Linked DNA regions of Homo sapiens: region 1 is linked to region 2. Evidence: fine-mapped expression QTL. Tissue or cell type: monocytes after LPS. Region 2 holds a variant in brackets; the other region holds the start of a gene. All regions are shown on one strand. Distances are between the middles of the regions.

Region 1 (2,608 bases), 180 kb before region 2:
CTGTCAGACTAAGAGCTGTTTGAGGATGGGAACTGAACTTTTGCCTCTCTGTAGCTCCTTAGCACGCAAGTTTATACCAGGTTCTCAAGCTAAGAACTTCAGGGCTTGAAGATCCCTCACAGACTCTCTCTCTCCTTAAAAGTGTGTGTGTGTGTGTGTGTCAATGAGAAAACTGAGGCCCAGGTGTGTGTGTGTGTGTGTGTGTGTGTGTGTGTGTGTGTGTGTGTGTCAATGAGAAAACCCAGGAAAGGAGAAATGCCAGGTCTCCTAACTCCCAGTCCGTGTATCTTGACTGTAACATAATATGTACATACTCATTCATGCAACCCTAAACCACTGAGCAATCACACATCACAAGCTACAGAATAATGGTTAGGTGTTTCTGCCTCTGGCAGCAGGCAGGCCTACTTTGTCATTCACTAGGTCTTTGACCCTGGGCAGTTTAATTCTTTGGACTGTTTCCTGATCTATAGTAAGAAGAGTAAGATGCTATCTACCCCATAAGGCTGTTGTGAGGACGAAATAAGATCATTCACTAAAACGCTTAGCGAGGTTCCAGGCACACATTAAGCACTCAATTAACGCTAGGTACTATTATTACAGGGCTCTGAGGCCTAAAGGTTATATTGCTTGCTTTCAAAGAGCTGACAGTTTAATCAGACAAAAAGGGGATGATTGAAATGGACAAGGAACAATCAGGGCCATAACAGGCCTAAGGGCACAGGGAGGGCTCGATTCTGCATGCAGGGTGAAGACCACTGCAAGTCAGATCTCCAAGATTTGCCAGGAGGACGTAGGGAAGGGCATCCTAGGGCAAGGACAGGCATCTAAGGGGCCCCGCCGATAGTTCAGAGAAGAGCGCTGCCCGCACATACTCACGGCGCGTGTCGGCCCCGGCGCTCTCCCGCCTCACCGGCAGCAACAGAACGGAGGGTCGCCCAGTCCCTGCACAGGGAGATAAAAGGCACAGACGCGCGGGATGAGCCCTGAGGAGCTCTCTGCACTGGGCACGCCGCTGCGCCTGACCCCGGTCTCAGCTGGCTGCCCGTGCTCACCCCTGGTCAGCGCCGAGGCCCCCAAGATCCCGCGCCACCACAGCCTGGCTACCGCCGCCGCCGCCATGTTACTCAGATGCAGACTAGGCAGCGGACGGAAAGACAGCAGGACACGGAGCCCCAAGGGCACGGACCGGAAACGGAAGTGTGCAGCAGATCTTCTTCCGGGCGGACGTGGAGCCGGAAGCGGAGGTTCCGGGCTCCGGGATGAAAGGAGGGAACGCAGGTGAGAAAGCGAGACAGGCAGGTAGGGAAATCGTGAGGTGAGCGTGGTCCTAGCTCCTTGTGGCAGAGCCTAGAGAGAAGGCGAGGACGCTGAAGAACCAGGCGGGTGAGAGGAGGGGAGGGGGCGGGCGTTTTGGGTTCTACGCTACACACCCCTCCCCCGCTCTCTGAGCCAAGCTTTTGACGAGGGCGGGCGGGCCTGAGCGGGAAGAACGGTTTCCCTGGCGACCGTTTCCAAGACGACTCAAGGTGGAGCGGGGACATTGCACAGGGTGATGGGCCTCCCAGTGCCCCGGCCTGGGGGCGGATGGACTCAAGTTCTGGGACGCAGCCATAGGGAGTCTTTCGAGCGAGCGGGGAAGTGTGGGGGAAGCAGCTCAGAAGAGAGCAAATGTAAGACCCACGGATATCCCAGGCTAGGCTTCATATGGAGCGTCTTAACTCCATGCGCTGGGAAGGAGAGGACCTGGCCACTAGGCCGGGGCCAGGGGTCCTTTTTGTCTGATTCTACTGCCCCTGAGCTTCACTAGTTTTATGCCCCAGTTATTTGGTTAGTAAGGCTTTTACGATCACAGGCCTCTCCCAGCCCTTTGCTTTCATATATTGACCTAAATCCCAAGTCTTTTGTTAACATTATGGAAAGGAATTATTCCGTGTTTTCTCAGGAAAACACCCAGAGTTGGAACTTTTATTTATATCATTAGCGGAGGGGCGCCACTGGGGATAACGAACCCAGATTTGGTTAAAGGATAGCGTCAGGGACATCATGGACAGGGCCAGGACTAAGGCCAATCTGGACCCACTTTGCTCTCACTTCTTCCTTTTCCCTCCCTGAGTTGGACAGTTGGATTCACAGACTATGGCTGTGAATTCCTCAGGTTACTCAAGATGGTGTTGCTTTGCAGACAGCTGGCAGAGAGAGAAGTTGGCTAGCATGGAATCACCAGAGGAGCCTGGAGCATCCATGGATGAGAACTACTTTGTGAACTACACTTTCAAAGATCGGTCACATTCAGGCCGTGTGGCTCAAGGCATCATGAAACTGTGTCTAGAGGAGGAGCTCTTTGCTGATGTCACCATTTCGGTGGAAGGCCGGGAGTTTCAGCTCCATCGGCTGGTCCTCTCAGCTCAGAGCTGCTTCTTCCGATCCATGTTCACTTCCAACCTGAAGGAGGCCCACAACCGGGTGATTGTGCTGCAGGATGTCAGCGAGTCTGTTTTCCAGCTCCTGGTTGATTATATCTACCATGGGACTGTGAAACTTCGAGCTGAGGAGTTGCAGGAAATTTATGAGGTGTCAGACATGTATCAGCTGACATCTCTCTTTG
Region 2 (2,753 bases):
GGATTACAAGTGTGAGCCACCGCTCCCGGCCTGTTTTGTTTTTTGTTTTTTGTTTTGTTGTTGTTGTTTGAGACGGAGTCTTGCTCTGTCACCAGTCTGGAGTGCAGTGGCACGATCTTGTCTCACTGCAGCCTCCACCTCCCGGGTTCAAGCCATTCTCCTGCCTCAGCCTCCTGAGTAGCTGGGATTACAAGCTCCCGCCACCACTCCCGGCTAATTTTTTTATTTTTAGTAGAGACGGGGTTTCACTATGTTGGCCAGGCTGGTCTTGAACTCCTGACCTTGTGATCCGCCCGCCTCAGCCTCCCAAAGTGCTGGGACTACAGACGTAAGCCACCAGGCCCGGCCTGTTTTTTTGTTTTTGAGTTGGAGTCTTGCTCTGTCACCTAGGCTGGAGTGCAATGGTGTGATCTCAGCTCACTGTAACCTCCGCCTCCCAGGTTCACGTGATTCTTATGCCTCAGCCCCCCGACTACAGGCACCCACCACCATGCCCGGCTAATTTTTGTATTTTTGGTAGAGACGGGGTTTCAACATGTTGGCCAGGCTGGTTTTGAACTCTTGACCTCAGGTGATCTGCCCTCCTCGGCCTCCCAAAGTGTTGGGATTACAGGCGTGAGCCACTGCACCCAGCCACAAATGAGTGTTTTCTGACATATTTATCAGTTGGTTTGGAGGCCATAGGGTTTTCCTGGGTTGAAGCACTGGACAAACTTCAGCAGAGCTGGATGGGCCTGGGTACTGCGTGGCTCTAAGTGGCTGAGAGGTGTCTGGGATCAGGGAGCCACAGATCTATTTCTCTGACTTCACTGCAATGCCCAGAATCTGACTTTAACCCCTTGTTCCTGTCTCTGGCCCCTGCAAGACTGGCTGGCCTGGCAATGGCCAATGCTTTGACATCCTTCCCTCCACTCTGGCAATCGAGGGCTAGAGACTTGGGCTGGGGATGGATACTTCCAGAGTGTGGTCTCTAGTGAGATATCTGGCCTTATCCTTGTCACAGGGCTTCCTCCCGTGGGGGTCAGCAGGAAGATAGCAGTCTCTTATTGAAAGGCATATGGGGCTCAGGATGGTAATCACATTACGCAGGGTCACAGCTAAAAAGAGGCACAGCAGCTCCCCCAGGGCCACAGGTTCAGCTTCTCCAAAGGAGCCCTGCCCCTCTGAAACCCCTGACCCCAATCCTTTCTCAATCCTTCTTTCCAGGGTAGCCTTAGCTCCCTCATGAGTTCCTGGGGTATTTTCTCCACTGAATCCTAAGCCCTGGCTGGGCAATGCTCCAGTGACCCCACAGGGCCTCTCCCCTCTTCCCTTGCCACCAGCAGCTCCACCATGAACAGCTGAGTCCCACTACTCTCTGTCCAGCCTCTCCAC[T/C]GTGGCAAGTTCTGTCACCCCCACCCCACTCTCGGCAGGCCTGGGATGTCCTTCCCCTTTCGCCATCTCAGTCGATTGAAACCTAGCCTGTTGACAAGGCCACCTCCTCCCTGCAGCCTTCCTGACCTGTCCATTCTGAAGGCTCTGCATGTCGGTGTGTCTTTGGATCCCTTAGCCTTGTCCCCTGGATACACAGGCCTCTTTCCCTGCCAGGTGTGGGCTGCTAGAAAAAGCAAGCTTTTGCCCATACTCTGAATAAAAGTTTATCCAAATCAATTTCATGTCTCCCATTCCCCTTCTCTTGTCTCAGGTGCACAAATTGGGGTGAAATCCTTGTGCGTTCTGCACTGCCCTTTTGGTCCCTGCAAGGCTCTTGTTTAATTTTTGTGTTGATTTACATCTTTCCTTACTTGTTACCCTTCCCCTATCCCATCTCCCTGTCTCCTCCTTCAGTGAAACCTGAATTTTGTGATGATCAGTCCTTTGCTTTTTATTTTTCTTTCTTTCTTTTTTTCTTTTTGAGACAGATTCTAGCTCTGTCACCCAGGCTGCAGAGCAGTGGCGCAATCTCAGCTCACTACAACCCCTGCCTCCCAGGTTCAAGCGATTCTCCTGCCTCAGCCTCCCGAGAAGCTGGGACTATAGGCGCCCACCATGCCCAGCTAATTTTTGTGTTTTTAGTAGAAACAGGGTTTCACCATGTTGGCCAGGCTGGTCTTGAACTCCTGACCTCAAGTGATTCGCTGGTCTCGGCCTCCCAAAGTGCTGGGATTACAGGTGTGAGCCACCACGCCTGGCCTTTCTTTTTTTAAAATTAGAGATTTTAATTTTAATTTTAAAATTTTTTTAAAATTGTTGCCCAGGCTGGTCTCAAGCTTCCGGGCTCACATGGTCCTCTGGCCCCAGTCTCCCAAGAAGCTAGGACTACAGGCACACACCACCACACCTGACTCTTGCTTTTATTTTTTTGATAAAGCTTTTTCTGACATATGTATGTATACCTAGACAATATTCCATTTGAATTGGCTTTTTTAAAAAAAAAACTATTTTAAGGTTTTACATTATTTAGTGAATTTAACAATTGTTTTCCTATAGGTTCTGCATAATTATTACCAAGTTTACTTCTAGATATTTTATATTTGTGGGGATATATATATATATATATATATATATATATTTTTTTTTTTTTTTTTTTTTTTTTTTTTTTGAGACAGAGTCTCACTCCGTTGCCCATGCTGGAGTATAGCACAATCTCCGCTGACCACAACCTCGGCCTTCTGGGCTCAAATGATCCTCCCACTTCAGCCTCCCAAGTAGCTGGGACCACAGGCACAAACCACCATGCTCGGCTAATTTTTTTTTGGTATTTTTTGTAGAGA

Direction of the effects. Alleles are on the strand shown, and positions count from the first base shown. SD is a standard deviation of normalised expression in the study named.
As copies of C replace T in region 2, the expression in monocytes after LPS of the gene that starts at base 1,140 in region 1 goes up (moderate effect, 0.57 SD a copy in Quach 2016).

The links. PIP is the estimated chance that this variant, and not a neighbour inherited with it, causes the effect.
Region 1: it holds the start of NDUFS3, and the variant in region 2 is fine-mapped to the expression of NDUFS3 in monocytes after LPS (Quach 2016, PIP 0.95).

The regions. Positions count from the first base shown.
Region 1 is chr11:47,577,606-47,580,213 of GRCh38, reverse strand. It overlaps NDUFS3 (NADH:ubiquinone oxidoreductase core subunit S3), which reads right to left and starts at 1,140. Exons shown (of 7, transcript NM_004551.3): 1 at 1,056-1,140; 2 at 880-945. The coding sequence starts at 1,122. It overlaps KBTBD4 (kelch repeat and BTB domain containing 4), which reads left to right and starts at 1,244. Exons shown (of 4, transcript NM_018095.6): 1 at 1,244-1,281; 2 at 2,186-2,608. The coding sequence starts at 1,263. RefSeq lists enhancers at 367-1,025, 1,094-1,333, 1,026-1,685.
Region 2 is chr11:47,402,034-47,404,786 of GRCh38, reverse strand. The region is part of intron 2 of SLC39A13-AS1 (SLC39A13 antisense RNA 1); the gene reads left to right. Among named protein-coding and RNA genes, the nearest start is that of MIR4487, 2.4 kb to the right of the region's middle. The variant T/C (reference allele first, on the strand shown) is at 1,375.